Linked DNA regions of Homo sapiens: all the other regions are linked to region 3. Evidence: fine-mapped expression QTL. A gene starts in region 3. Each other region holds a variant in brackets. All regions are shown on one strand. Distances are between the middles of the regions.

Region 1 (4,024 bases), 170 kb before region 3:
CTGCTGGGCATATCCTGGGAGGAAGGGACCCAGCCATAGCCAAGGCCTGCCCCGAGCCCGCTGTCCACAGCCCAGCCTGGCCCAATGTGCCCCACACACTCACCTTTGGGGGTGCTGTGGACGGCGCCCCTGGCCGGGTCCCATTTTTCCTCAGCTCCCACCCCATCGTCCTCGCTGTCTGACGAGTGTGAGGAGGCGTAAGAGCTGCTCTGCTCATCCAGGGACAGCTCGCTATCTGAGTCGGAATCGTGGCCTGTGGATGCGCGGGGGACAGGGAGGCTCAGGCCCTGGGAGGTGAGGGAGTCCCACCGAGGGCCAAGCAGAGCCACTGGGCCCCTGGCATGCTGACGCTGAGCATGGCGAGGCTGCTAGTGCTTCTTCAGGGGCAGTCTGTCCAGTGACCGAAGGGACGTGGGAAAAACAACCCACGGGGTCCTCCCCCTCCAGGGAAGCCATACCAGGGGGATCCTTGCAGCTCCTGGGCATGAGGGACGCGTCTGGCTCTCCGTGGCTGCCCCTCACCAGCCCAGAGGACACGCCGAGCTTCTGGATCCCTTCATCCCTAGAGAGGCCAGGGAGGGTGGGCTCAGTATCATCCGTCAGGGAACAGGAGGTGCTGGAAAGTTCTCTGGAAGATTCTCTGCCCCTACCCCTTCTGTGTTCCCAACAACAGCACAGACAAAACAGCCTCCCGAGTATGTGGGGGAAAGGTGGTGGGGGGAAAGGTTGGGTGGGGGGAAGGTGGTGGGTGGAAAGGTTGGGTGGGGGAAGGTGGTGGGGGGAAAGGTTGGGTGGGGGAAGGTGGTGGGGGGAAAGGCTGGGTGGGGGAAAGGTGGTGGGGGGAAAGGCTGGGGGGGAAGGTGGTGGGGGGAAAGGTTGGGGGGAAGGTGCTGGGGGAAAGGTTGGGGGGAAAGGTTGTCAGGGGAAAGGTGGAGGGGGAAGGTGGAGGGGGGAAGGCTGCGGGGGGAAGGTGCAGTGCGGGGAAGGTGCGGGGGGGAAGGTTGCACGGGAAAAGGTTGGTTGGGGGAAGTTGGTGGGGGAAAGGTTGTTGGGGGAAGGTGCAGGGGAAGGGAAGGTGCGAGGCGGGGAGGGAAGGTGCGGGGCAGGGAGGGAAGTTGCGGGTGGGAAGAAGGTGCGGGTGGAAAGTTGGGGGTGGAAGGTGATGTTGGTTGAATGGCAGGACACAGGTTGGGGTGGCAGGGGCAAAACCTGAGGGAGTTCGAGAGCCACCTCCCCGAACCCGGAGCTGCGGCCTGACCTGACGATGCTGTCCAGCGAGGCGGTGGACTCGCCCAAGTCTGTGCGCAGCATGTCAGGCCCGTCACCGAAGGTGGTGTTGCAGTTGAGGGAGCGCTGAAGGGAGGGGAGGGGCTGGTCACTGCCAAGTGGTGGCCACCACATGACCACCACGGGGAATGACTCTGTCCCCACGGCAAGCCCCCCACACCCACACCCTGGCTGGGCCCCTGCCTGGCACACAGGAGGAGCTGGCCCCAAGCAGTCAACCCTCACTGCAAACGAGAGCCTCCTGGCAGCTGAGGGAAGCACATCCTGGCCCGCGCTGTGGTCAGGGGCTGCCGCCCTCCCTACGGCCACTGCTTCTGGTCAGGATCCTCGGTGGTCCTGACCCTCTCTTTCTAAGGCCTGGAAGAGCAGGGTTAGGATGCGACCCAGGCCCCATCTGGCCGATTCTGTCACTTTCTGGTTCTGACGCGGCAGCCACACCGTGCACCGCGGGCGGCTCTGCCATCCCCACCGTGAGGGGCATACGGGCCGCAGGACTGGGGCTGAGGCTCGATCACCCTCCCCCGCCCCTCGAGATGCCGCCCAGCCCCCAGTCCCGCGGTGTCCCCGGCGCCTCCTACCGTCAGCAGGGTGGCCCTGGTGGTGGCGGAGTCCTCCAGGTGCAGCTTCCTCCCGCCGAGCACGCCCTTCAGGTGCTTCCGGACCTCCTGGTTGAGCACGCAGTGGAAAAGGAGGACGAAGGGGCCCTGGAGGGAGGAAGGTGGGGTCAGCACCTGCTGCTGCCTCCCTAGGCACCTGCCCTTAGGCGCCCCAGCACAGATGCGCATACAGCCTTGAGTGCACACAACATGTCCGGCCACACGGCCCAGGACACGGCCAGGCCTCCCCTCCTCAGGGACTGCTGCTATCTGGAGGCCAGGTGGGGGAGCTCAGAAACTGAGATGCCTGGGCCAGACCCCCGGTGTGCTGGAGGCAGTGAGGGCCCCGGCTCAGGCCAGTCTTCTGGGCACTCCTTCCACAGTCCTTGGGGCCCCTCTGGGGTCCCCACTGTGTCGTAAGTCCACTTGCTGTGTGGCCCTTGGTATGACTAGAAATGGCCACTTCTGTTCCCTGGAGACACAAGTGGACTTGTGCTGGCCTGGCACTAGGGTCATCGTCCCCAGACACAGTGGGGAGGAGGCACCAGCCCCCGTGCCGGCTGCACAAGGGACTGAGTCCTC[A/G]CAGCCACAGGAGGCCCCCACGCGGGACCCAGGCAGGGCTGGTTTGGGACCGCAGAGGCCTCCACTGCTTCGCATCACAGCGATGGTGTCACGGCGGCCAGGCAGGGGTCCCGCGGGCAACTCGGCCGTCACCTACCTGTAAGCCGCTGAAGATGGCGAAGAGGTAGTGAAAGCTCAGTGCATCGCGGTTCACAGCCAGCAGCCCCAGCAGCCAGGTGGCGCTGATGAGCAGCAGCAGGAGGAATGCGGTCCTCAGCAGGGAGCTGCGGGAGGGCAGGATCAGGCCTGTGCCCATCGCCACCACCTGCTCCCTTCCTCCCTCCCTCTCTGCACGTCCACCTGTCCACCTGCCTGCCCGTCCGCCCATCTATCTGTCCGTCCACCTGTCCACCCAGCCATCATCCACCTTGCTCCCTTCCTCCCCTCGTAGCCAGGTACGGACTCATCCGGGAACCAGACAGAGCTCGTGTTAGTGGGGGTGGTGGTGGAATACATTAGGAAGCAAATGAGAAAACAGGAGCTGTGAGGACTACACCAGGCCAAGGGGCCTGAGCCATGCCCATGGCTGCACTAGCTCCCGTGAGATACCCTGTGGAGAGGCAAGAGGAAGAGCCCAGGACCTGCCCTTGAGCTGTGACCCTGCAATCAGCTTCCTGAGCTCTGCCTCAGTCTCCCCATGTGTACAAGGGGAAGACAAAGGCGCATCCCCTCCCAGGGTTCAGAGGGGATGGAGTGAATCCGGGTGACAGAGCCCGCAAGGTCCACAGGTCGTGGATGGCACTGAAGACGAGGAACTGACAAGGCCCCAGACCCCCCGTGCACCCCCATATCCGGCCTTCCAGGCCACTCACTGCCTCTCCCTCTCTGCCCTACCCCCCTTCAGACTCGGCTCTCTCCTCCCGGGCCGGGAGCCTCACACTCCTCCTGACACCCAGCCCCTGCGCAAGCATTATCCCTTCGCCCATCCCTGGCTCAGTCCCATCTCAGCTACCAGGTCACCAGGGGCTGGCCTTGTTGTCTGACAGATGCCCCCGTCAACCCCTCCTGACCCTGTCGTGGCTCCTGGACGCTGTGCTGAGTCCTCCCGCGGTGCCACCTGCTCCTTTGGGGCCTCGAAGGTCCCCTCTCCTCCCTAGAACACTGGAGGTTCCCTCTGTGCTGGGCCCCTGTTCCACTGCACCCTCTGACAGTGGGGTGGGGGGGTCTCCTCCCCTCCAGTGGCCTCAGCAACACCCTCACCACCCACCAGAAAGTTTCATCTCCCCCACCCCACCCATCTCCACTCTGGGGATTCCAGACAGCCCAATACTTCTGTGCCAGGCGGGAGGGACTGAGGCCCAGGACTGGCTGCCAGCCCCCTCCCTTCAGCTAACCTCCTCCAGCCCCCTCCCCTCAGCTAACCTCCCCCAGCCCCTGCAGGTGCAACGTGGCAAACCTCTCTGGAGCCCTGGGGCTCACCCAGGCTGCCCCCAGCCCTCCTCCATGAGGCCTACACGCTCTCATGGGGCCCCACCCCGCAGAGACTGGACGTCGGGGTCTCAGGGCCCAGCCGACATGGC
Region 2 (4,024 bases), 150 kb before region 3:
AGGTGGGACTACAGGCATGCGCCACCATGCCCAGGTAATTAAAAAAAACTTCTTTAGTAGAGATGGAGTTTCTCTATGTTGCCCAGGTTGGTTCTGAATTTCTGGGCTCAAGCAATCCTCCCTGTGTCGGCCTCCCAAAGTGTTGGGGTTACAGGCATGAGCCACTGCGCCCAGCTAGAAGCAGCTTTTCACTGCACACCAAAGACAACCAGCTCACATACAAATTTCAGTTCTCTTTTCTTTCTGACATTATCAATTACATGGCTGAGTATCCCTCAGCTGAAATGCTTGGGAACATTTTGGAATTTTTTTTTTTTGAGACGGAGTCTTACCAGGCTGGCATATCTCGGCTCACTACAACCTCTGCCTCGTGGGCTCAAGCAATTCTCATGCCTCAGCCTCCTGAGTAGCTGGGATTACAGGCGCCCGCCACCGCAGCTGGCTATTTTTTGTATTTTTTAGTAGAGACGGGGTTTTACCACGTTGGCCAGGCTGGTCTCGAACTCCTGACCTCAGGTGATCTGCCCGCCTCGGCCTCCCAAAGTGCTGGGATTACAGGCGTGAGCCGCCGCGCCTGGCCTGGATTTTGATTTTTTTATTGTTTCATGCTTACGCTCCAATGAGCATTTCCTTTAAGTGTCAGGTTGGTGCTCAAGAAGGTTCAGGTTCTGGGGCATTTCAGATTTCAGGATTAGGATGTTCAGCCTGTACCTGAGCACTTGAACAAAACAACCTGCTGTCACCAACAGGACCTGGCACCAGAGAGCACTCGGAACACTCTGGCCCAGATCTTCAGTGCGCAGGTCCTGCGATGCCCGCAGCGGGGCCCTCCCCTCCCTGAACGCTGGGGACTCCGAGGGCAGCAGCAGGTTTCTAAGCGGTTTTACCTTTTTCTTCAGGTGGTCTGAAGAAGTCGGCTGGGAAGGAGACGGAGGACTCCAGCTCCCTGGGGAACTCTTCATGGATGGTGTCGAATCGCGGGACCCTGGCTCCCGTAAAGTTGAACTTGTCAAAGATGTCGACAGCAAGAACTGGGGGGACAGTTCCTTTAATCAGACATAACTCCCAGGGCTTTCTTGAACCCCTGCTGTTTTCAAAATGACCACAACTGTCACACTGACGCTGGCTGGCCATATTTATTTATTTATTTTTGAGGTGGAGTCTCGCAGTGTCTCCCAGGCTGGAGTGCAGTAGCGCAATCTCAGCTCACTGCAACCTCCGCCTCCCAGATTCAAGCAATATCTCCTGCCTCAGCCTCCCAAGTAGCTGGGATTACAGGCAGGCACCACCACGCCTGGCTAATTTTTTGTATTTTTGGTAGAGATGGGATTTCATCATGTCGGCCAGGCTGGTCTCAAACTCCTGACCTCAAGTAATTTGCATGCCCCGGCTTTCCAAAGTGCTGGGATTACAGGCATGAGCCACCACGCCCAGCCTATTTACTTATATTTATTTTTGAGACAGGATCTCACTCTATCACCCAGGCTGGAGTGCAGTAGCACAATCTCAGCTCACTGTAGCCTCGTCCTCCTGCGCTCAAGCGATCCTCCCACCTCAGCCTCAAGTAGCTGGGAATACAGGAGCATGCTACCACACCTGGCTAATTTTTATTTTTTATTTTTAATAGAGACAGGGTCTCACTATGGCGCCTGGCTGGTTTCGAACTCCTGGGCTCAAGCAATCTGCCCATCTCAGCCTCCCAGTGCTGGGATTACAGGTGTGAACTACCACGCCCAGCTGACTGACCATCTTTAGAACAGAACTGACTTCCAACTTCCTGCATCCCGCCTGTACTTACACCTGTCTACAGTGAGCCTGGAGTGAGGCGGGGTCCTCGACACCCACCCTTCTAGAGTCTCACACCTGAGGGTTTGGAAGCCCTGCCGGACCCCCAAGATCATGGCCCAACATCTCCCTAGCCCGGGACCTGTCCCCTGGGAGCCACGGGTACGTCATCACAGACTGTCTTCCCAAAGGCTCCATTTACAGATGAGGAAACAGAGGCCTACCTGCCGAATATTTTTTTTTTTTTTTTTTTTTGAGACGGAGTCTGGCTCTCTCGCCCAGGCTGGAGTGCAGTGGCATGATCTCGGCTCACTGCAAGCTCCGCTTCCCGGGTTCACGCCATTCTCCTGCCTCAGCCTCCCGAGTAGCTGGGACTACAAACGCCCACCACCACGACCGGCTACTTTTTTGTATTTTTAGTAGAGACGGGGTTTCACCATGTTAGCCAGGATGGTCTTGATCTCCTGACCCTGTGATCC[G/A]CCCACCTTGGCCTCCCAAATTGCTGGGATTACAGGCGTGAGCCACCGCGCCCGGCTTTTTTTTTTTTGAGATGGAGTCTCGCTCTGTCACCCATGCTGGAGTGCAATGGCGCAATCTCAGCTCACTGCAACCTCTGCCTCCCAGGTTCAAGTGATTCTCCTTCCTCAGCCTCCTGAGTAGCTGGGATTACAGGCATGCACCACCACACCTGGCTACTTTTTGTATTTTTAGTAGAGATGGGGTTTCACCATTTTGCCCAGGCTGGTCTCCAACTCCTGACCTCATGTGGTCTGCCTGTCCCGATCTCCCAAAGTGCTGGGATTACAGGTATGAGCCACTGTGCCCGGCCTCACAATCATTTTTCTAAGAGCATGGCCAAGGGGGGGCCGGGAGCCCACCTGCTTCACCCCATGGGGGCCTAGCTCTGGGGCACACCCCTGATGGTAGCAGGGTTCCACCCCCAACGCAGCCAGCGCCTTACTCATGTTGGCGGTGACGATGACGAAGGGCCGCAGGTACGTCCGCCGCACGTTGCGTGCCACGTTGCTGAAGTAGCCCTCGAGGCGCCGGAGCAGCTGTGCCGTGCCGCCCTCGCTCCGCTGGATCTGCTCCCACGCCGCCCTGGTGGCTGGGGCCAGGAGGGCGCTGCCCGAGTGGATGACGTCCTGGTCAGACAGACAGCACTCAGTACTCAGCCTGCGGAGGCCTGGCTCGTGGGACGGAGGGACACCTGCCCTGAAAGCCTTTGCTTGCCTAGTGGGCTCATTCATTCATTCCAGCCCTACACTTTAGACTGTGCTCTTTAATATTAGTTGTTTTTTGTTTTTTGTTGTTTTTTGTGTTTTTTTTTGAGACACACTTCCGCTCTTGTCGCCCAGGCTGGAATGCAGTGGTGTCATCTCGGCTCACTGCAACCTCCGCCTCCTGGGTTCAAGGAATTCTCTTGCTTCAACCTCCCGAGTAGCTGGGATTACAGGCACACATGTGCCACCACACCCGGCTAATTTTTGTATTTTTAGTAGAGACGGGGCTTCACCATGTTGGCCAGGCTGGTTTTGAACTCCTGACCTCAGGTGATTCACCTGCCTCGGCCTCCCAAAGTGCTGGGATTACAGGCGTGAGCCACCACGCCTGGCCTAGTTCCCAAATATTTTTTCAAAAAGTTTATCTTAAGAGGAATAAAAAAATGTTACTAAGCTCACAAAGTATATTAAAATCTAGAGAATTAAAGATGCTTCATATTCTTAGCTTAATTTACTAGATGTACAAGCACTGCTTAAATGCTTGGAAGGTCTGTTTGCTAGCCGAACAATTGAAATACAAAACAAAAAATCAACTACATGACATATATTAATTCCATTTAAAATACTTAGGGGAATTTCATGGTCTAAGTTTATAAATAGGATCAAACATTAATCAAAGTTGAATTCAAATAGATAAGGAAGTCTTTTTGTTTGTTTGTTTTGTTTTTGTTTTTTGAGACAGAGTTTCACTTTGTTGTCCAGCCTGGAGTGCAGTGGCACAGTCTTGGCTCACTGCAGCCTCTGCCTCCCGGGTTCAAGCAATTCTCGTGCCTCAGCCTCCCACCACCCCGCCCAGCTGATTTTTTTCATATTTTAGAAGAGACAGGGTTTCACCATGTTGCCCAGGCTGGTCTCGAACTCCTGGGCTCAGGCAATCTGCCCATCTCGGCCTCCCAAAGTGCTGGGATTACAGGCGTGAGCGACCGCGCCCGGCCAGAAGTCATTTTTTAATGTGT
Region 3 (4,024 bases):
TCCACCAGGAGCTGGTACTCGGCCGCCTCCTCCCGGTCCAGCACCGCCCGTGTGCTCACCACGCCAGAGCTCTCGTTGAGCTGGAAGACGTCCCACGCGCCCCCCAACACGCGGTAACGCAAGTTGGCGTTGATGGGCGAGTCGCGGTCGCTGGCGCGGATGGTCAGCACCTCGTAGCCCACCTCCAGGTTCTCCCGCACGCGCTCGCGGTACTCCGACTGCTCGAAGACCGGGCTGTGGTCGTTGGTGTCTTTGACCAAGACAGTGATGTAGGTGGTGGCCGAGCGCGGCGGCGTACTGTAGTCCACGGCTTTCACCCTGAGGACGTGCGTCTCCTTGGTCTCGCGGTCCAGTACGCTGTCCGTGCTCACGGCGCCCGTGGCAGAGTCGATTCGGAAGTAGCCCCGGGAGCGCTCGTCGAACAGCCCCTCCATGTAATAGCTCACGCGCTCCTCCTCGCCCTCGATGGTGTAGTGCGCGTGCAGCTGGAGGATGAGGGTGCCCGCCGGTTCGTTCTCAAACAACGCCACCTGGTAGTTGGGCATCGGAAACTTCAGGCTCCCTCTGCCGCTCGTGCCCCGCCGGGCCCGTCGCGCCGGCCCCGCCCGGGCTTCGGGCAAGTTCGGCGGCAGGGGCGGCGATGGGGATGGCGACGCGGAGGGCGTCCCCGCGGTGGCGGCCTCCAGCGCCAGTCCCACCCGGACGGCGCCAGCCGCGCGCCGCAGGGCGCACAGCAGACGCAGGCGGACCGAGCCGCCCGGCGGCAGGCAGATGGGACGGCCGGGACAGCGGGGCCTGGGGCGCGGCGGGCAGCGGCAGGCGGGTAAGGTGGTCGGAGCTGCGAGCGCCGAATGCTGCGCGGCCGCGCAGCCGCCGGGGACGGGGAAGCAGAGCGCCCCGCAGAGCCGGGCACCGGTTCCGCAGAGCCGGGCACGGGCTCCGCAGCCGGGAAGGTGCGTGCGCGCCCGCAGGCGGCGGCTCAGCGCCGTCGGGGCACTGCGGGCCACCAAGCGGACTTGCAGCGGCAGCGGGCGCCCCGCGCCCGAGACGCGCCGACGTCCTGCCAGCCGCCCATCGCGGCCCACGTCCAGCAGCTCCCGCGGCGCCCGGGGCGTGCAAGCGGCGCCCACCGCGTAGGTACAGCCGGGCCGGAGGGCGAAGGCGCGGGTCCCGCCGGGTACGCGCGGCTCCCAGGCGGCCGCTCGCAGCCCCATCGCCGGCAGGGCGGCGGCGGCGGCCAGGAGCAGCAGCACGGGCAGCACGGGCGGCGGCGGCGGCGCCATGGCCCGGAGCCCGAGCCCGAGCCGGGCGCCCGAACACAATCCATGCACCCGGCGCGCCTCCGCATCCACCCGGCGAGGCCGGGGAGCGGCTCCCGGGCGCCCGGCCCTCGGGGCGGTCCGCGTCCCGCCTCCCCGGGGGCCCTGGCGGGGACTGTGGGGACCACGCGCCCGGCCTCCCCCGCAGCTTCCACTTCGAGAGCACTTTGCGAAAGTTTGCGAAGTTGGTTTCAAGATGGCTCCTCCGCGCGTCCCGGGAGGGCGCCGCGCATCAACCTGCGGCGGCGGCGGCGGCTCCAGGCGGCTCCAGGTGGCTCCGGCGCGGGCTCGGCCGGACGGGCGTGGGAAGCGGGGCGGGCCCGGCGCGGGGCGGGGGCTGAGTTCCCGGAGCGGGCTGGGCAGCTCCGCGCCGCGCAGACCCCGGCGGCCGGCTGCTGCCTGGGCGGTGCGCTTGGCCCGCGCCCACTCCGCCCGCGCTCTCCCCGCCCCCGGCCCGGCCCCGCCCCGCCCCCGGCCCAGCGGCGTATTGTTCGGCCCCGGGGGGAGCCGGCTCGGAGGTGCGCGCCGAGAGGATCGCTATGGAGACGCGAGGGCGCGGCCGGGACGGGGACTGGGGCCCTACTCCCCGGAGGCCTCCCCACCCAGCCTCCCGGTGGGGCGGGGCCGAGGCAACAGGGCCGGGAAAGGTGGGGCTGGGGCCCCCGGTGGCCGCTACCCGTGGGGCGGTGGCTCCGCACCTCGGGCTCGGGGCCGCGGCTCAGAGCCTGGCTCCCCACCCCGGCAGAACAGATCCACGGAGACCGCCGCCAGGAGTGCCGCGCGGGTAGGACCCGGGGGCGGAGGACTGGGGCCGAGAGGCCGGGGAGCCCCCCCCCACCCATTAAGGACTGCGGAGGCTGTCGAGGAGGGTTACCCATTTTACAGCAAGACGCACGGAGGCTAAAATGCTTCACCCCGACTAAAACTCCCTGGACTTTGAAGCCCAATAGGCAGCTACCGGATCTGCGTCCCACTTGGTTTAAAGCGCAACTTTTAAATGAAAGAAGAAAACCCCGGTTGACATAAGGGATTTGGAGAGGACGGCGGAGGCGCGCTCATCTCCCGCGTGCGGCCCGACCCGAGCGTTCGCGGACGCATCGCGGAATCCCCGAGCGTCCGGCTCCTCCCGAAGCGGGTTGCGGGGAAGGCGGGGGGCTGCGGGTCCTGGAAGCTGCCTGGGGCAAGCAAGCACCCGCAGGGATTTAGAGCTGTGCCACAGCCCCTGCCCAGCCTCCTACGGAGGACAGCGGGGGGCGGGGGGCAGAGACCTTAGAGCTTTCAGAAAAGTGACACACACCCCCGCCTCCTGCGGGGAACCACGGGGGGCCGGGGGCAGCTTTAGGTTTGCGTGACGGGTACACCTGCCTCCGGATGGGGCACAGGGATAAAGGGGGTGGAGGCTTAGGACTTGGCGACCCCCCGCATGGGCGGGGCTTTGGGACTGTGCCACCAGCGGCTGGGAAGGGCGCGCACTCCCTTGGTGGCGCTCGGGGCGCCGGAGTCCAGTGCAGCCCTTAGGCCTCCCAGTGGTCGGGGACGGTAGGTGGGGGTCGCCTCTTCTCTCCTAGAAGGGCTTCTCCTGGGGCCGGTCGGAGCGGTGGGGGTGGGAGTAATGCGCAGTCACCCCTAGAACGGGTCTTTTTGGCAAGGGAGGGTCGGATCCTGCAGCCAAATCTCTGAGCTGAGCTGAGATGAGTCCAGTCTCAACGAGGACCGTGGGCGGCTGTGGAGAACCGGAAGGGTTTCTCCCCCGGAGCGATGTGTCTGTGTGTGTGTCACACGCATACTCAGCCAACTTCGCTCAAAGCTGCTGAAACAGTGTCTTTGTGCTGAAGCCCAATGTGAGCATTTTCTTCCCAGTAGCAAGGATTTGAACACGTTATATTGATCTAAAAGGTGGAGTTGCTTTGGAACCTTTTAATTCGAGGTTTCCACTGGAGAGTCCTGTTGGGAAATGTGTGTGTGGAGGGAGGGGAGGAAGGAGAAAAGTCCGTCTCCTTAATGTGAGCGGTCCAGGACCTCCCCACCCGCCATATACCCTTCCACTGGGATTTTTCCGGGAAGGATGAAAGGACAGGAGTTCTGGGGCCGGAAGGCAGGGCGGGTCCCTGAGCCCGGAGCCTCCCAGTGGAAGGCTACTGGGCGGACCTGAAGGGGACCCAGGCAGGAGGAAAAACCAGAGAACCCCAGGAGTGCCTGTTTTGCAATAAGGCTTTAAGCAGAGTGGGTTGGGTTTAAATAAACAAAACTCAGCTGCAGCCAGTGGGTTCAGGTGTGGGCCTGCTTTTCTGGAATAAGGCACCTGCAGGCTGCGAGGTAACCACAGGGACTGCCCAACACCTAGGGACAGGGGAGGATGGATGAATCTCACTAACAGGATGTCCAGCAAAGACAAAAGATCATTCCATTCACGCTTAGACCGACAGCAAGCCCGACTCCACCATAACGTTTAGAGGTGTGCACAAATAGGGGAAAGATGAAGAAAAACAAGGAGGTGATTATGGGCACATTCAGGAGGGCTCTGGGGGAGGAGGGGCATCCCCTTCTGGACCTGAGGGTTACCAGAGTGTCGGCTTCATGATCACACTTTGAACTCCAAACACATGATTTGCGTACTTTTCCCTATGCCTGCATCTAGAGTCGGCAGTTTTTGTTTTTTTTTGTTTTGTTTTGTTTTGTTTTGTTTTGTTTTTTTGAGACAGAGT
Region 4 (4,024 bases), 24 kb before region 3:
CATCACGGGACACCCCAGGGGGTGATGTGCTGAAGGCCAACAGTGGGGAAGGCAGGGAGAGTAGGGGGCAGAAGAAGAGTAAGAGGGTGAGATGAGGGAAGGAGGTGTCTCCCTGGTATGGGGCAGCCCCAGGAAAAGCCACTTTTCCCACTGACGGGGGCTACCAGCTCTGTAAACATCCCTCGGTCATTAGACACAATGACCCGCCTCTCTGCTCACTGCTCATCCCAGGCACTAGGTAAGAGCATCCCCTGCCCGGATGACATGACGGTCACCTCCTGCTTTTCTCCTGGTGTCAGCTCTTACAATTCTGCCAGGATGTCCTTCATGCTGCCTCCGAGAAACGCAGCAAGTCATTCAGGTTCTGGGGTCCTGAAGTGCCCCGAGCCCACCCCCAGATCCCAGCCCAGTGGCCCCCACGCTGCCAGGAGCTCTCAGTGTGGCAAACACAGCAGCAGCAAGAGTGACGGCGGCGCTCATAAGCCCTTACTAAGCGTGCTGCCCTCGAGGGCTCACAGCTAGGGGCAGGTGTCCCGGATTTGCAGAGGAGGACCAAGAAGCACTCAGGGACTGAGGTGTCAGCCCCCAAATCAAGGTCCAATACTGGCCAGGTGCGGTGGCACATGCCTGTAATCCCAGCACTTTGGGAGGCCAAGGCAGGCGGATCACATGAGGTCAGGAGATCGAGACCATCCTGGCCAATATGGTGAAACCCCATCTCTACTAAAATACAAAAAAATTAGCCCGGTGTGGTGGTGTACACCTATAATCCCAGCTACGTAGAAGGCTGAGGCACGAGAATTGCTTGAACCCGGGAGGCGGAGGTTTCAGTGAGCCGAGATCACACCACTGCACTCCAGCCTGGGTGAAAGAGTGAGACTCCATCTCAACAACAACAAAAAATCAAGGCCCAATACTATGCATTGCCTTGACATCTGCTGAAGCCAGGAGGCCTCAAATGGCCTCACCACAGGTCCCCCGCCCCACTCTGCTCCTTCGGATAAGATCCCTCCACAGTCAACCCTTCTTGTCACGGGGATCAGGCACAGCTCCTGCTTATAGAGGGTAGCGGGTTTCCGTTCCCTGCCATCCAGAGGAATTATTCAGACAAGCTACCCATGTGCCCCTGCAAGAACCAGGGGCCCCCCACCCTCTTGTTCCTTCCGGGTCCGGGCTTGTCCCCCACAGCACCTGGCTGTCCTCTGCTCCTGAGTGCTGCCCCGGGTGGCCCCGCATGGCAGGCGACGTCCTCCTCCAGGCTGGGCCTCTGTGCTACTCACGCACTGCTGCTGACCTCATCTGTCCAGTGTCAGGTGCTCAGCAATCCCCATCATCCTAGGACGGGAATCCATCCCTCCCCAGTGGAGTGAATAGGAGGCCATTTAACCAGTGAGTGACTTCTGGGGCGAGATTCAAACCCGCGACCACCATCACGGGCGCCTCTCAAAATCACGCGACTGGGGACAATACACCTGGGGACTAGGCCATGTGGGCTCAACGCTGCTGCAGTGAGCCAGAACACATGAAGGAAACACTCAAGGAAAGGCGGTATCCAACTACGGCCTTTATTCCTCTACTATCAGGCAACACAGGGAAGAGTGTTCATGATCACGAGAGGCAACATGGCCTGTAAGTGTGCAAGAGGATTAAAAATACAAGTTCAAAAGCATTCCCCACGTGGGGTCCTGAGTTTTACAGGACACTTAAACCAGCCCACATACCTGACCATACCAAGAAGTCCAATGCAGTCACACAAAAACATGTACACTAAAAGGGAGGCAATCCAACACACTTCAAGTTGCAACTTGAGTATTTCAAGCAATATTCTCAACCATAAAATCTTAGGAGCCAAGATCAATGTGGGGAGGCCTTAGGTTTACCATAATGAGACACTGCCTGTACACTGTTATAATTGGCCCTTATCTCGTGCACCAGGGATAGGAGTCCCAGCCCTGCAGTGTGCACTTCCTACGGGCAGCAACACTTCTGTTTACTCCGTCACTACATCCCCAGAGCCAACACTCACCTGCGCAGA[G/C]AGCCTCCTAATAAATACTGGTTGGAATATGGCCCAGAAGCTCAAAGCCATAGATAAGTTTATTAATACTTTTTGTTGTTGTTGTTGTTTTGAGACGGAGTCTTGCTCTGTCGCCCAGGCTGGAGTGCAGTGGCACAATCTCAGCTCACTGCAGCCTCTGCCTCCCGGGGTTCACGCCATTCTCCTGCCTCAGCCCCCCCCGAGTAGCTGGGACTACAGGTGCACGCATCCACACCCAGCTAATTTTTGTATTCTTAGTAGAGACGGGGTCTCACCTTGTTGGCCAGGATGGTCTCGATCTCCTGACCTCATGATCCACCCGCCTCACCCTCCCAAAGTGCTGGTATTACAGGCACGAGCCACCGCACCCGGCCCTCATTTGTAATTTTTCACAGCTCTTTACTTGTCTTGTCTACACTTTTCTCACATCCCAGCACCCACCTGGGAAAGGTTCCTGGGGTCAGAATCATCTGACCTTGACTGTGGGTCTTTCCCACCCAGGTAGGCTCCAACACCAGGGGAATCCCACCCAGTCCTCGAGATGACAGTGTCAAAAACCCAGTAAGCGAGACTACTCACAATGGAGCCGGCATTTCTGAAGGGTGATTATTTAAGCCACACCTCAACTGCGGGCCTATGTGATGCTGAAGCTCTTCCACCCAGACGTTTCACCAGGCCCCGACGGTCCATCCAGGTGAGGGCTGGAGTCAGGTCCACCTGCACTCTGATCCCCGGGGGCCCAAGGCCACACACCTCTGGCTGCCAGTCAGTCAGAACCAGTCCTGGTGAGGTGGGGAGTGGGGGCATGAAGGATGTGGCCTGAGGACACCCCAACAGCATCTGTGTATCACCGCCAGACCCTTGCTGAAAGTCAGGGATAATGCAATGGCCCCTCTCAGCACCTCCCCAGACCTCCCCAGACTCTGTGGTCCCTCCTCCCAGCATCAAAGAGAAGAGTCACTCCCCGGAGGGAGCCGGGGCTGCAGGGCCGAGGCTCACGGCTGGGCTCTGGAATAAGAGGGGTGTTTCTGAATGAATTGCCCAGCCCTGTCCTGCCTCGCTGAGTCATTCCCAAGTCAGCAAGCACAAGTCACTGCGGGAAAAGCTCTGGAGCTGCCACCCCTTCCCACCCCAGGGATGCCTGTCCGTACCCGCCGTCAATCCAGCCCTCAGGCCTGGGGGATGAGCACCTCAGACGTGCTCTTTGCAGCTGGCATCCGCTCCAAACTCCATGCCTCCCCACAAAAGTGGCTCTGTCCAAACCCCAGCCCTCTTGGGCCCTGGCAACCAGCCTAGTCCTCGCCAGCCCCTTCTAGAAAGCACCCCCAGCACCCCCTCAGCTTCAGCCTGGGCTGAGAAAAGGCTGTCTGGCAGCGTGGACCCCCCTCAGCGTCCCAGCAGAGCCAACCCCCCCCGGGGACACTCATGGGACACAGCATGGGCAGTAGGAGCCATTCCACCCGTGCATCAGCCCTCTGGCCACACTCTGGGACCTCATGGCCCTGCCCACCACTCCCAGCCCACAGCCAGGCAAGTGACCCCCACCTGGGCCCTCCTGGGGAGAGCTGCACAGCTGTCGGCAGCACAGCTGGAACCACAGCCCAGCGGTCTCAGTGCGTATCACAAAGGCTAGCTTGTGAGTGGATGCTCCCAAGTCACATGACCCCCAGGTAGGAAGGTTTGCACATGTTTCATCAGGGTAAAGGGAAAGAGGCTCACCTTAAACACAAACTCTATGAAGGCCTTAGACAGAAAATAGGAAAGCATGACAGTCTGTGTCTCCATGGTGAAGTCAGCTCTGGGAGGGCTGAGCCTGATGCAGAGTGGGTGTGCACAAGCTGCAGGGCACCCCGGGGGCTGGAGGTGGAGGACACAGCCAATAGGACGGGCCTCAGTCACACAGTGCTCAGGGCTGGGGACTCAAAGGCACAGAGGCTGAGGCTTTGTAAGTCCTGCTGGGGGATCAGGGGATGACTAAGTCACTGGGGC
Region 5 (4,024 bases), 80 kb after region 3:
CGTGTAGGTTCCCCCGTGTGTAGGTTCCCCTGTGCGTGTGGGTTCCCCCATGTGTAAGTTCCCCCCTGTGTAGGTTCCCCTGTGCTTGTGGGTTCCCCCGTGTGTAGGTTCTGCTGTGCGTGTTGGTTCCCCCATGTGTAGGTTCCCCTGTGCGTGTCGGTTCCCCCGTGTGTAGGTTCCCCCAAGCGTGTAGGTTCCCCCTTGTGTAGGTTCCCCTGTGCGTGCAGGTTCCCCTGTGTGTAGGTTCCCCTGTGTGTGTAGGTTCCCCTGTGTGTACGTTCCCCTGTGTGTACGTTCCCCTGTATGTACGTTCCCCTGTGCGTGTAGGTTCCCCTGTGCGTGTAGGTTCCCCCGTGCGTGTAGGTTCCCCCGTGTGTGCAGGTTCCCCTGTGTGTGTGGCTTCCCCTGTGTGTAGGTTCCCCTGTGTGTGTAGGTTCCCCTGTGTGTACGTTCCCCTGTGTGTACGTTCCCCTGTGTGTAGGTTCCCCTGTGCGTGTAGGTTCCCCTGTGCGTGTAGGTTCCCCCGTGAGTAGGTTCCCCTGTGCGTGTAGGTTCCCCCGTGTGTAGGTTCCCCTGTGCGTGTCGGTTCCCCCGTGTGTAGGTTCCCCCAAGCGTGTAGGTTCCCCCTTGTGTAGGTTCCCCCGTGTGTGCAGGTTCCCCTGTGTGTGCGGCTTCCCCTGTGCGTGCAGGTTCCCCTGTGTGTAGGTTCCCCTGTGTGTGTAGGTTCCCCTGTGTGTACGTTCCCCTGTGTGTACGTTCCCCTGTGTGTAGGTTCCCCTGTGCGTGTAGGTTCCCCTGTGCGTGTAGGTTCCCCCGTGCGTGTAGGTTCCCCCGTGTGTGCAGGTTCCCCTGTGTGTGTGGCTTCCCCTGTGCGTGCAGGTTCCCCTGTGTGTAGGTTCCCCTGTGTGTGTAGGTTCCCCTGTGTGTACGTTCCCCTGTGTGTACGTTCCCCTGTGTGTAGGTTCCCCCGTGTGTAGGTTCCCCTGTGCGTGTAGTTTCCCCCGTGTGTAGGTTCCCCTGTGCGTATAGGTTCCCCTGTGCGTGTAGGTTCCCCCGTGTGTAGGTTCCCCTGTGCGTGTAGGTTCCCCCGTGTGTAGGTTCCCCTGTGCGTGTGGGTTCCCCCGTGTGTAGGTTCCCCTGTGCGTGTGGGTTCCCCCGTGTGTAGGTTCCCCTGTGCGTGTGGGTTCCCCCATGTGTAAGTTCCCCTGTCCGTGTAGGTTCCCCCATGTGTAGGTTCCCCTGTGTGTGTAGGTTCCCCCGTGTGTAGGTTCCCCTGTGCGTGTAGGTTCCTCCGTGTGTAGGTTCCCCTGTGCGTGTGGGTTCCCCCATGTGTAAGTTCCCCAGTGTGTAGGTTCCCCTGTGCTTGTGGGTTCCCCCGTGTGTAGGTTCTGCTGTGCATGTAGGTTCCCCTGTGTGTACGTTCCCCTAAGCATGTAGGTTCCCCCGTGTGTAGGTTCTCCCATGTGTGCGGGTTCCCCTGTGTGTGCAGCTTCCCCTGTGCTTGCAGGTTCCCCTGTGTGTAGGTT[C/T]CCCTGGGTGTAGGTTCCCCCCATACGTGTAGGTTCCCCTGTGTGTAGGTTCCCCTGTGCGTGTAGGTTTCCCCGTGTGTAGGTTCCCTTGTGCGTGTAGGTTCCCTTGTGCGTGTAGGTTCCTCTGTGTTGGGTCCTTAAACATTAACCAGCTCCTTCCTCCCCAGGCCTGGGCAGGATCCCAGCACACAGAGGAAGAAGCGGAGACTCACGTAGGCATCTCCTGGCCCTCCCAGTCTTCCTGACTGTCTCTCCTGGGCCACGCTGGCAAGTGGCCCCAGAGCGGGCCATACACCGTGCTGGCATTAGCACCCCAGGGTGTGCTTAGCCCTGGGCCCGCTCCCTGGCCCCCCTGGGTGGCTTCCCTGTCACAGTGCAGAAGGCTCAGCTCCCCACATGGGGTTCCAGCCTGACCCTCGTATGACTCAAGCCTGAAGATACTTTGCCAAGGGAAGGAATTCAGGTTTCTTCCTGGAGAAACATCCCAGATCACTGAAGGCTTGTAGTTAAAAGTTTTTGTGTATTCAGGGACGCTGTGCTTTGGCAGGGCCCAAGGCAGAGTCCATGGGTGTCCCTAGTCCATGGGTGTCCCTTTCTCTTGAGGCCTCTGGCAGAGGAAAGAAAGCTCAGCTGGTGGCTGCGGGCTCAGGCTGGCGGGGACCCCCCAGCCGTGGCATCTGGGCTGCCTTTGTGTGTCGCTCCCTCACTCTCTGAACAAGTGTTTGTCACTGCCCACCACGTGCCAAGCTCTGCAGAGGGAGACTCGGGTGCCTGCAGCTCGAGTCCACCTGAGCATCACCGGCAGAGCCGAGCCCCTGGAGACTTAGCCAGACACAGCCCCTGCCCCGGGGGAGCACCAGGCGGGTTCTAACCAAGCAGGACTGGAGGCACAAGCGCTAAACAAGGAAGCCATCAGGGCAATCCAAGGACCCCACGTCAAACCAAACAGGATGGTGGAATGACAGCGGGCGGCGCCTAGGGAATGGGGCAAATGAGCGACGTCCCGGAGCCAAACGTGTCGGGCCCTGCAGTGGGGACAGAGGCGGTGGTCGGAGGGTTGCAAAGGGGGTCGGCAGAGCTGCAGCCAAGCCTAGATGAGCCAGAGCTGATGAGGGTGTCGGGGGAGCAGCCGTGTTGACCCGGGTGCGTGGAAGCCCCTGGAGAACTTTGGCAGGGGCGCTGCAGAGGCTGATTTTGCCTTTGAAGGCCTCACCATGCTTGCCATGTGGAGAAGGCTTCGGGAGGCACGCGGCTGCCTGGACCAGGCTGGGGTGGTGGGGAGAGGGGAGGCACGCGGCTGCCTGGACCAGGCTGGGGTCGTGGGGAGAGGTGGACAGATGTGCAGCCCCGTCTGGAGGCGTGCGGCCGGCGTGCGCTGCAGGTTGGCAGTGGAGTGAGGAACGGGGCTATCAAGGGCTCTTGAGGGTTTCACCCAGACAGCTGGTGGACACGGTGCCATCCAGTCAGAGTGCCCCTTGAGACCCGAGTCTGTGCCAGGCGTGGCATAGTTGAGATACTGGTGAGCTGTCCGGCTTGGAGCCTGCAGGGAGGCCAGGTCAGGGGGCAGGGTTGAGAGCAGCCAAACACCCGGATACGGACATCAGCATTTGAGGCCGCCTGACTGTGCCCAGCTGGCAGGACTGAGGCCTGAATCCAGGGAGGGGATGAAACTCCTGGACAAGCCTTGAGTTTGGGGCAGCACACATGTCATCAGTTGTGAGCCGACCTCTTGAGGCTGATGTTGGAACAATAGTGGCCAAGGTCGGGCACGGGCTGGAAGGGCAGGATCTGCAGTCTCAGGACCCCAGAGGGCCCAGGGAGCTGTGTGTGTGCTGGGTCCTTGGGCCTCTTTGCATCAGGAGTTAGGGAGGTGCAAGTATGTGGCTGTAAGCATGGGGACATTGGGGTGGATGTTTTTGTTTTGTTCTTAGAGACAAGGTCTGGCCCTCACCCAGGCTGGAGTGCAGTGGTACGATCGTGGTTCACCGCAGCCTCAAACTCCCAGGTTCCCAGGCGATCCTCCTGCCTCAACCTTCTGAGCAACTGGGACTGTAGGCACGTACCACCACGCTGGCTCATGTTCTTATTTCACTTTCTGTGTCACTGCATTGCCCACCTCAGCCTCTCAAAGTGCTGGGATTACAGGCCTGAGCCCTGGTGCCTGGCTGGCGATGGGGTATTGGTAGAACCAGGCCTTCTTTGCTGGCCGCCCCCGGTCCTCCTGTTCACTCTGCAAAGCCCTGGAGTCTGCCAGCTGCCCCATCCTCACGTCCTCTTCAGCTGCCCAGGTTGGCTGTCCAGCTGCTGGTCTAACCTCCATCCAGGCCTTTCTGACAGTGAGGTTTAGGGGCTACCTTCCCTAGAGGACTGAGACTTGGAGGAGGGCCAGGTGGGGGCTGGGGCCCACTGCAGTGGGGGTGGGGGAGGTGTGTCTGTGTCGCTCAACATCTGCGAGTCCCCCAGGGACATTGCTTAGGAGGGCTGGCGGCTGTGGGAAA

Direction of the effects. Alleles are on the strand shown, and positions count from the first base shown. SD is a standard deviation of normalised expression in the study named. Not every link is listed here.
With allele C in place of G in region 4, the expression in subcutaneous fat of the gene that starts at base 1,733 in region 3 is lower (small effect, 0.23 SD a copy in GTEx).

The links. PIP is the estimated chance that this variant, and not a neighbour inherited with it, causes the effect.
Region 1: its variant is fine-mapped to the expression of CELSR1 in whole blood (TOPMed, PIP above 0.99). The same link has a PIP of 0.9 or more in blood mononuclear cells.
Region 2: its variant is fine-mapped to the expression of CELSR1 in spleen (GTEx, PIP above 0.99).
Region 4: its variant is fine-mapped to the expression of CELSR1 in subcutaneous fat (GTEx, PIP above 0.99).
Region 5: its variant is fine-mapped to the expression of CELSR1 in spleen (GTEx, PIP above 0.99).

The regions. Positions count from the first base shown.
Region 1 is chr22:46,365,128-46,369,151 of GRCh38, forward strand. CELSR1 (cadherin EGF LAG seven-pass G-type receptor 1) reads right to left here. Exons shown (of 35, transcript NM_001378328.1): 28 at 2,602-2,728; 29 at 1,866-1,991; 30 at 1,259-1,353; 31 at 459-562; 32 at 104-253. Among named protein-coding and RNA genes, the nearest start is that of TRMU, 31 kb to the left of the region's middle. RefSeq lists an enhancer at 2,779-2,838. The variant A/G (reference allele first, on the strand shown) is at 2,466.
Region 2 is chr22:46,383,656-46,387,679 of GRCh38, forward strand. CELSR1 (cadherin EGF LAG seven-pass G-type receptor 1) reads right to left here. Exons shown (of 35, transcript NM_001378328.1): 19 at 2,747-2,930; 20 at 888-1,031. Among named protein-coding and RNA genes, the nearest start is that of TRMU, 50 kb to the left of the region's middle. RefSeq lists a silencer at 624-807 and an enhancer at 2,486-3,685. The variant G/A (reference allele first, on the strand shown) is at 2,265.
Region 3 is chr22:46,535,888-46,539,911 of GRCh38, forward strand. It overlaps CELSR1 (cadherin EGF LAG seven-pass G-type receptor 1), which reads right to left and starts at 1,733. Exons shown (of 35, transcript NM_001378328.1): 1 at 1-1,733. The coding sequence starts at 1,283.
Region 4 is chr22:46,511,684-46,515,707 of GRCh38, forward strand. All of the region lies in intron 1 of CELSR1 (cadherin EGF LAG seven-pass G-type receptor 1), which reads right to left. Among named protein-coding and RNA genes, the nearest start is that of CELSR1, 24 kb to the right of the region's middle. RefSeq lists enhancers at 1-86, 2,588-3,504. The variant G/C (reference allele first, on the strand shown) is at 2,036.
Region 5 is chr22:46,615,901-46,619,924 of GRCh38, forward strand. It overlaps a transcript of GRAMD4 not described here. Among named protein-coding and RNA genes, the nearest start is that of GRAMD4, 2.5 kb to the right of the region's middle. RefSeq lists an enhancer at 2,518-3,285. The variant C/T (reference allele first, on the strand shown) is at 1,527.